2 separate regions of the Homo sapiens genome follow, and region 1 is linked to region 2. Evidence: fine-mapped expression QTL. Tissue or cell type: cerebellum. Region 2 holds a variant in brackets; the other region holds the start of a gene. All regions are shown on one strand. Distances are between the middles of the regions.

Evidence for each region. PIP is the estimated chance that this variant, and not a neighbour inherited with it, causes the effect.
Region 1: HBS1L starts here. The variant in region 2 is fine-mapped to the expression of HBS1L in cerebellum (GTEx, PIP above 0.99).

The regions. Positions count from the first base shown.
Region 1 is chr6:135,052,582-135,057,813 of GRCh38, forward strand. It overlaps HBS1L (HBS1 like translational GTPase), which reads right to left and starts at 2,241. Exons shown (of 18, transcript NM_006620.4): 1 at 2,068-2,241. The coding sequence starts at 2,110. It overlaps LOC124901405 (a long non-coding RNA gene), which reads left to right and starts at 2,312. Exons shown (of 2, transcript XR_007059775.1): 1 at 2,312-2,905. It overlaps LOC124901406 (a long non-coding RNA gene), which reads right to left. Exons shown (of 2, transcript XR_007059776.1): 2 at 5,137-5,232. RefSeq lists an enhancer at 2,400-2,449.
Region 2 is chr6:134,982,419-134,987,650 of GRCh38, forward strand. HBS1L (HBS1 like translational GTPase) reads right to left here. Exons shown (of 18, transcript NM_006620.4): 9 at 5,227-5,232; 10 at 4,318-4,392; 11 at 3,648-3,765; 12 at 2,923-2,991; 13 at 40-144. Among named protein-coding and RNA genes, the nearest start is that of MIR3662, 5.6 kb to the left of the region's middle. The variant G/A (reference allele first, on the strand shown) is at 2,097.

The DNA of each region.
Region 1 (5,232 bases), 70 kb after region 2:
TTAAAAAAAAAAAAAAAAGAAAAAAAACTCTTTTTTACTAGGTCAGTTTGTCAATGCTGAAGTTGACCCTAAAGTGCCACAACATATAAAGATGAAGAGAATTCTTTCCTGCAATCTTCATAGTTTGTTTCCTCAATCAACAAAATTATGAAATATTTACCACATGTAAAGAACATTGTGCCAGCTACTTAAAGTATGGATTTTGCCTTCCTGAGACTTTTAAATCAGTGACTGAGGCAGTCATGTAAAGTATTACATAAATTACAGAGAAAAACAAAGTGGGAGTTAAGTAGCGGAACCAGTAGGTTTTAGAACACAAACTCTCTCTAATGAGGTTATATTTCTTAACAGAATTTTTAAATTATTATTCTGAGAATTCAAGAGAAAGCCTAACTGGGAAGAAGAGAAATAAACTGGACCTTAATGAGTACAACTTTTATAAACAAGAAAAGGGGATGAACCTCCTTAATGTTACAGGAACAGCTTGGTTATGATGTCACCAATTGTTTCAAAGAAGCATGACAACATGACAACCTAACCTCAAGAAGCCAAGGTGCTCCCTGAGGCCAACCACCTCTCCTCCATGAAGCATTCCTTAACGTAGAAATCCTGCTTAAATTCCCCCCAATCCATTCTGAATTAAGTGTTCTCATCTGTGTATCCCTCCCATAGCGTTTTCTCAGTACCTTTTGTAGCATTTTTCATACTCTAATAATCTGTAACTCGTATAATCTTCTCCTTTTAGACCACCCTCAAATATCTTACTTTCAGTCCTCAAAGCTTAGAACAGTACTCTAAGCACTAACTTAATGGTGGTTGAGGAAATGATAAACAACTATTAAAGAAATGAATGAATAATAAATAGGCCTATTCATGTACTTTATATTTGCAAAAATCTCTCTCAATCTAAAGTCATTTCTTAGGTGACAATGGTCCACATGCAATACCATCCACTGCAATATTTATTTAAAAGGGCCTCCATTCTAAAGTAACCACCAGAAAATTCACATGTTCTAGACGGACTGAGGTCACAGGTTCCAAATGGAGAACAGGGTGTTAGCTGCCCTCACTCTAGTTAAAGCATACTGATGTTCTATAATAATCTACTGGGGTGCCAATGACAATCACCAACATATTAAGCACTACATGTTCTGCACTTCGTAAAGCATAGTTCTTTATTCTTCTCCTGCATTAGTTCATTTTTGTTTATATTTTTAGTTTATGTGATGCTTGGTGATGCCTATAGTTATCTACTGCATGAAGAGGGATGTGCTCCTCCTAAAAATAATTCTAACTCCTGTTAACTCCTACAGAACATTCATACAGACATTTTTATTTCATTTTTTAATATCAAAAAGTCCTTTCCTATACACTCTTTCCTCTAGTACTGCCGTTTATTTACATTTCAAAATACATTTATATCAAGCATTACCAGCCAAGAACTAAGTATAAACTTCAAGATCCATCTGATCGACTCATTCTTTGGGCCTTTTTAACATGTGTCTTTTCTACCGTCTCCTAAGTTTCCACTTTGAAATTCGTTGAAAAATAAATTAGCGCAAACTGATTCTGCACTAGGTATGTATGGACATACACAAAAGGTTTACCATGTAAATCTAACACAGGTACACGTCCGTTGAATGTATTAAGTCAATCTGTGTTTTACAAATAAGCAACGTTTCATGGACATTTCTCAAAGGGGATCTGGGAGAGAGGAGCTAGAAGCAGGCACGTTAGTGCCCAACATGGGAGGAAACAATGGAAGAGGTGATAATGCTTACGTGCCTAAATATCACCGGATCTCAACCTCACCAATATCCTACCCATATGACGCTATGCAGCACCTCCCCCTCCCCAAATAAAATCAACCCCAGAGGGCAGAAATCATGACTTAAAAACGACGGCATTTGAAAGCACTAGAAGGCCTGTTATATTCCCCAACTGGGGCTCTCCCAATCCCGACAGGGCAACACTGACGAGAAACTCACAGATTGAAGTGGATGCCAACGGGCTAGGATCCCAGCTGTAGCCGGGAAAAGAACGTCCCGGCATGACCCTGCCACCTACCTTCATCGTAGTTATAGCCTCGAACATTCCGATGCCGGGCCATGACGGCGGAGAGGGCGTTTGCCACAGCCCCTTAACTCCTTCCAAAACACTCCGCTTAGATACTGATAAGGCGCCAACTGCAGCCTGGAGAACCCCTATGCGCCATCTTGGCTTCCCGCAGGCCTCTGCGCCGAGCGCCTGCGCAAGCGCGACGTCTTAGCTGTGCACCGCGCGACGGCAATGCCTCAGGGTCACTGTCCGCCTCCCTGAGGGCGCATGCGCACTGCTGTGCATGGCGGGACGAGGGGAGGGAGCGTTTGGGAGTGGCCCCACCCAAAGGTTGGGCGACGGAGGGGGATGGGGAAATCCGCCGCCTAGAATTGACTGGTTTGGACTAAATGTTGCAAGCGGGGAACCTTGAGCTACCTACGCCAGCGTTCTGGATTATTTTCCAAATTTGGTTCCTGATAATCTGAGAAAGCTATGCGCTCAGTAAGAGCAGGGACCTTGTTTTATCAAACTTTGATCTTTCATTAAGCACACAGTGGGCATTCAACAAACTTGTGTAAACTTGGAATCAGATTTAGCCCAGGCCGGTGCGGTGGCTCCTTCCTGTAATCCCAGCACTTTGGGAAGCCTAGGAGGGCGGATCGCTTGAACTCAGGTGTTCGAGACCAGCCTGAGCAACATAGCGAGGCTCCGTCTCTACAAAAAATACAAACACTAGCCGGCCCTGTGGTGCAGACCTGTAGTCCCAGCTACTGAAGAGGCTGAGGTGGGAGGATCCCCTGAGCCCAGGCGGTCGAGGCTGCAGTGAGCTGAGATCGGGCCTCTCCATTCCAGCCCGGGCGACAAAGTGAGTGAGACCTTATCTCAAAAAAAAAAAGAGTCCAAGCTTTAGAGAAGGAAATAAGGCTATTTTTAAACGGGTATATATTATTAAATTGAGACCCTGGCTATATTAGGTCACCCTGCATTCATATAATTTACGACTTCATGTATTCACTCCGTTCGGCATTACTATCCCTAGTAAACAGCGATTTGCCCTTAGCTATGTAAACGATTTTAGCTATATAGACGATATTTATCAGCATCATAAAGAAGGATTCACTGAACATTCATTGAAGACATAATTGTGTGTAACATTGCGAGTATTAAATATAGCTTTTTAGACATAGCACTGGCCTTAGGTGGTAATGCTGAATGTTGTTGATGCATGAATCTATAACCTGCTATTAAATGTCCTCATTTCTCAGAACATAAAGTTAATAATGCTATATAAGAAACCAACCTCATTATACTGAACACCACTTCAGTTTTAGCTTGTGTTTTTGAAATGATGATACTTCACATCAAAGGCAAATGTTGAGTTCTAGAGATAATTAAAAGCTTCCTCAGCTTTTTGCTATGCACAATAGAAAGAAATAAGAGTAATCCAAATTTAGTTTATATTTGTAAGTGGCTTGGAACGTAATTTATTCATGCATTTGAATGTGTTTGACTACAAAAATAGTTGTTTAATGTGGCTCCAAAATAAAAGTTTACAGAAAAATAGAGATAGTTGCTAATGTTACATGGCTTAAGTGTTTTTATTATTTTACACCCTTAGGTAATTTTTATTTTGCAGCCTGTTTCTTTGTAAAAAGGAGATAGAGACACTAACTCGCGAGCTGTGAATAATGTATCCGTATAAGAGGATTTATCACAGATCATAGTAGGTGCTTAAAAATATTGTGTTATTGGCCGGGCGCGGTGGCTGACTCCTGTGATCCCAACACTTTGGGAGGCTGAAGCAGGCGGATCATGAGGTCAAGAGATCAAGACCATTCTGGCCAACATGGTGAAACTCCCTGTCTACTAAAAATACAAAAATTAGCTAGGCATGGTGGCGCGTGCCTATAGTCCTAGCTACTCGGGAGGCTGAGGCAGGAGAATCGCTTGAACCCGGGAGGCAGAGGTTGCAGTGAGCTAAGATTGTGCCACTGCACTCCAGCCTGGAGACAGAGTGAGACTCTGCACCCCCCCAAAAAAATTGTGTTATTAAAATACAAATGGCAGCTTCCACTCCACTGTAATTGTCAATTACAAGCTTAACTACAACTCACTGAGGTATGAAGTGAATGAGTTATAGACCACATAAGCAAAGTACTACAGGAACAATGAATAAGAAAACGTTACTTCTGTCAGATAATATATAATTTGCCCTTAGGTCGTCAATAACGCACTCCTTTAAAACTCTAAATATTGCACAGCATCTACTGCATCTCAAACAGTAGAGCCTCAATGGCAAAGCCTTCACTGACTTCTTCAGAAAAAGTTAGGATTGTTCCACTCCCCTCAGGACTCTGTAAGGTGTGGGCAGGGCACCGTGGCTCACGCCTGTAATCCCAGCACTTTGGGACGCTGAGGCGGGTGGATCACCTGAGGTCAAGAGTTCCAGACCAGCCTGGCCACCATGGTGAAACCCCCATCTTCCACTAAAAATAAAAAAAAATTAGCTGTGCGTGGTGGTGGGTGACTGTAATCCCAGCTACTCGGGAGGCTGAGGCAGGAGAATCGCTTGAACCCAGGAGGCAGGAGTTGCAGTGAGCTGAGATCGTGCCACTGCACTCCAGCCTGGACAACAAGGGCAAAACTCCGACTCAAAAAATAAATGAATAAAACTCTGGTATTGTGTTTTGATGGAAAGTACTATGACTTCGGAGTACCACGAACCTGGATTTCAGTCCCAGTTTTGTTGCTGTTAACCACTTCAGATTTAATGTCTTCATCTGTAAAATCGAATATATGAAAATGTATGTCTTCTGTTTTGTGAAAAGTAAATGATATATGTAAAAACAGTAGGTGTTGCAGAATGGGTACTCAGTAAATGCCACTTCTCTACCCCTACTAATTTCAAAGCTTTATCTTTGTTTCTCCGGCACCCTAATGTCTGGCACTTTAAATGTTTGCTGAATGAATTAATGAGTAAAAGAAGAGAAATAAAATGACATTTCTCTTGCTATGGAATTGTTAATGTCATAAAAAACAATACAAATCATTTTATATTGATTTGTGAAAAAAATTATGAATGAAAGGATAACTACATTACTGAAAAAATGTTAACAACTTTATTGAGATATCATTGACAATAAACTGCACATAATGTGTAATTTTGATACATTTTGACGTATGTATACACCA
Region 2 (5,232 bases):
TTAAGGCTTGTTTAGCAAAAGCATCTTGCAGATAAATACCTTTCACGGTACAAGTTTCATTAGGAGGCATTGCCAGTAGTCGGTCACCAGTTTGGATATAACCAGCTTCTATTTTACCAGTTATGCAAAATCCAGATCCTTGATCTGCAAAACATACCAAAATCTTATGGTTCATACAGCAATGTTATCTGATGATTAATACCGTTAACTATACTTAGTTCTCAAGTAGTCATATAAAACTAGTAGTTCAATGGACATTAAATAATAATCATTTCAGAATTAACATCTCTACTAAATATGGCATACCACACTTTACTTTTTTTTTTTGCAAATAAAAATACTCATATTACCAAAGAAAGGTTCATTCCTTTCTCAAATATTTATTGAGAAATAATAAATACGTAGTACCAGATATTATACTAAACTCTGGGGATAAAAAAAAATAAAAATGTAAGTCCCTGCCCATAAAGATATTATACTAGTGAAGAGAAAGATGGAAACAATTACATTGTCCTGAGACAAATAATATGTAAAATATACAATAGAAACACAAAGGTGCACCAAAGAATCCATGATGGTGAGAATAGACATCTGGCACTCTGAAGAAGGAATAAGTGTTTATTAGGTAGCTTGTATGCATGAGTAGGGAGAAAAAGGAAGACACTGCTGCCCCAGGAAACTGTGTGGGCAAAGGCATAACCAAATGTGGGATGGGCTAAGAGTCATGTGTCACTTGTGGGGGCCATGGGGAGGGGACCATATAGAATAATGAAGAAAAGGTAAGACAGGAGGCAACAGAGATAGGCAAGGGAGAAATAATAAAGGGGTCTCATAAATCACGCTTAGGGTTTAAATTTCATCCTGCAGTTAAGTAATAGGAAGCCAGTAAATATTGTGACCGGAGAAGTAAGGTGATGGTATTTCTGTCTTAGAGTAGAGGCTGATACAAATGCACAAACTTACTACAGAAAGGGAATAAACTCAAGAATTCGGGAATAAGGAATAACAAGTTTGGAGTGGTAAGGAAAGTGAAGACTAATGACAGAAAGGGGAAAATGTGAGATGATGATGCATTAACTGTGAGATATGAAACTAAGGACAAGATCCATTTTAGGCTTGGTAAATCTGAAGTGTCTATGAGACACACACATGCAGAAGTTGCATTCCGGGGGGACCAATCACACCACATTCCATGAGAATGGTACCCCTAAAAGAACACTCTCCCAGGAGAGATGTCCAGTAGTGCTTAGACAAGTGTGTGGAGAATGAGTGAAAAGGTTTGGGTTGGAGATACAGATTTGGGAAGCATCAAGATGCAGAAGGTAGAGACACTCATGGATGTCAGTTCAAAAGGAACTTGAAGACTAAGAAGAGGACTGAGGCAGCAGAACACTGTTTAAAAGACAGAGAATGAGGAGCCCATAGAGAAGATATAGAGAGGTCAGAGATAGACAGGTCAGAGAAATAGACAGGTTAACAGGAGAAAGCAGGTCACAGAAACCAAGGGAGGAGTTTCAAGGTGGATGTGGCTACCAGCATCAGAACCAATGCCAAATTCAAGTAAGATAGAATTGAAAGTGTATATTGACTTTGGCAACCAAGAGGTCATTTCATGACCTCAGGAGGAACACACTCAGGAGAGCAGCGTAGGCGGAAGCCAGGAAGCAGCCTGAAGGGGGAACAGAAGGTGAGAAAGTACAGTCAGCAAACACTGTTAATCAAAGAAAAGTAACCACCTCTTGTATTCTTGATAAACAATGGGCATCTTGGAAACTATTAGCATATTTCCTCTATTACTAGAACACTGGAAGCTAATAATGATAATGATAAATTTTGATTTCATTGCATGATTTTTTCAAAGCACCTTCATTCATTCATTTTTTTATTCATGTGTTAAATGTATTATGTGCCAGGCACTGGGCTAGGGCCGCAGATATAGATAAAGAAGAGATAGTACTTGCCTTCAAGGAGTTCATAATCTAAGTGGGATAAACAGACAGCATAGAAAAAATTATAATGCTGCATGAAAGCACAATGACAGAGGATACAGAGAATACAGAGGGACGCGTCAGGGCATGTGCGCAGGTAAGCACGCC[G/A]GTTACCAATTTACTGCTGCTCAGTTCCACATTCACTCTGCATTGCTGGCTCTGTGACAATGGAGATTTAGAGGACAAATGACATCCTTACAGTTTTTATTATTGTAATAATAAATCTTATATCCTTTTATTTATTGAGTTTTTAAATTGTATTTCCACTTTATAGTCTTCTATATAGGATCTTGCCCTTATTAAGTTAGATATATTCTTAGGTATTTAATATATCATCTCTTCCAGCAAGCTCTGAACCTCTTCTACGTTGGTCCTTCCTCAGCCCTATCTATAAAGTTTCTGTATATCTTTTAGTTGCATTTTTATCATAGTTAATAATTCTTTATATTACATTTCCCATTTCACCTATGTATGGTATCTAACTCCTAACTGGACCCAGACTGTTACAGATGGGGAGGAAATGGACAAGTAAAGAGAAAGAACAATACAACAGGGAAGCACGGGTAGACATGTGGCAATAAACACATCCTGTGTGGTTAAGAAACAATAAACAATCCAGTTTGGTTGAAGGATTTGAAAACTAAAGGAATCTAATGGGAGAAAAAAAAACTATAAAGTTAGAAAGACAAAAGGCAAGGTTTTCTTATGCTTGAAAGATGAGAAATGGTGAGTAAACTGAAGGTTTTCCTGGACAGGGAAGCTAAGTGACTAAATCTGTGCATTTTAAGATTAATCTGACAGTGATCCTTACTTGGGCATGGAGAGGAGAGACTCTGAAGGCAATATACTGTCATAACTTAGTCCAGGAAAGGAGGTTAGGAGGGAATGGGGAAAAGGGGCTATACTGAAGAAGCACTACAAAGGTAGCACTTACCTTTGAAAACATCGGACACACATAATCTAAAAGGTTTGTCAATAGATCGCTGGGGAGGCTTAAAGGAATCTGGAAAAAAGAAATTGCAAAAGGCAAGGTTTAATTTAAAATTAAATTTTTGACTCACTTCAATAAACTCATTATAATCCCACTTCTCCTAGAAAATAACTACTTTTTATAATTACTAATAGCAACTTAACTGTCACTAATATACACATTGAGCATCCCAAATCCAAAATTCTGAAATCTGAAATGCTCCAAAATCTGAAACTTTTTGAGCACTGATATAATGCTCAAAGGAAATGCTCATTGGAGCATTTTGGATTTCAGATTTCTGAATTTGGGCTGTTCAACTAATAAGTATAATGTAAATATTCCAAAATCCAAAAAAAAAATTTCAGACCCCAAACACTTTGGGTCCCAAGCATTTCGGATAAGGGACATTCAACCAAGTAATAGTTGCAGCTTATAAAATGAATGTTAATCTCATTTAATTTTAACAACAGTCTATAAGATATGTAAACCAGGCACTAGCCTCATAAACTGAGGAAAACTGAGCACTAGACAGGTTAAGTATTGCACATGATGACAAAACAGGTAACTTAGTTCCTCCGACTACAAATCCTATGCTTTTTCATACGTGTGACTCTCTCCCATAAAGAACTCTAAATAATAATTAATACCAAGTTTATAATGCATTAAAGCTAGAATGGCAGTATACTTACCAATTTGTTCTAATAAACATAGTCCTTTATACCATTTTGTGAGTTCACTTGACTGAGATCTTGTGATTAGATTTTCACCACTGAGACCACTTGTAGGAATAAAACCTACATCACTCTCCTATTAAAAAGATTGACTTATGAAACTTAATACAACATTTTTTAAAACATTAAAAGATTCACCATTACCATAACTGCACCAAGTTTGCAAAAGCAACAATGTACTTTTTAAAACATAATAGAAATCACAGAACTACAGCCCCAAAGTTATCTGATCCAATAATTTTCAACTTTTTTGATTGGGAAACTTGCAAATTTATTCCAAAACATTCAAGCATTTGGTAACAAAGGCATACTACAGATGCTTGCTGGACAAATTCTTCCCTATCAGTTTCCACACTCCTCTATGACCTCCCTAAACCTATACCATCTAATTTAATAGGTAGGGTAAAAAAGTATTTTGCTTACATAAAAACCAACCCAAATATTAAACATATGCAATTTTCTAAGTTGAAATAATCCAAAGAATATATTATATATATGATACTCAAGAGAAAATAAAGCAAAGAGAATTAAATAAATTTAATAAGAATATCAAAGTATTAGTTTTTCCTCTCATACCAGTAAGATGACTTAAGGAAAGTAATAACAAATAAATCTAAAATGATCTTACCTTAAAACCTGCTTGCTTAAGAAAGTGCCCAAGTTTTCCAGTAATCTCTTGAAACCTTTCTTGTTGCCAATTAACCTGATAAAGATCCAATTTATTTTTAAAACTATCCTTCAGAACATGATACATAAAATTTAAATTTCTGCAATGAAATATAATCAAGACTATATAAAATATAAATATAAAATCTATTAAAATCAAAACATGGAATATCAGACCTTGCTAATAATATGATCTAAAAGTAATTCTTCCTCAAAATGCTCAAAGGCATTTTAATCAGGTTCAGCAAGTCTTAAAACGTACATTCCCTTACGCCCAGAAATTTCCATGGAATGAACCATTTTCTAAATACATATGCAGGAAATGTTCAAAAGTAAATGTTTAATAAATTACATCTTTAAAATAGACTAGAATACAGCCATAAAAACAATACCCTCTTTATCTAAGGATTATCAATTACTTGGAAACATGCATAAGACAAGAAAATTATTTTTTAAAAAGCAGATGATAAAACAGATAACCCAATTTTGTAAATAAAAAGATTCTTATCTATAAAAATAAATTGGATGAATATACAAAATGAAATGTTATAAGTTTCTGGGTGGGAAGGAGAATTGGTAATATAGGTTTATTTCTGATTTTTATGCTTTCATTCCACTATAATAAACATGTATTATTTTATAATTTAAAACAATTTTTAGGTTTTAAAAATTAATTTTGAAAATAAGAAGACATTTTCTTACTTAAAAATTACTAACACCTCATTTATTTAAGATGAGAACAGAGAATTTATTTTTAAAAACATGGCAACCGACTAATAAAATGTACACTAGTCACATCTAAGTCATCTATACAAGCAGAATAACATCTTAATTAGCATCTTAAACAAATCTCCACAAAGCCCTTAAATACCTGATC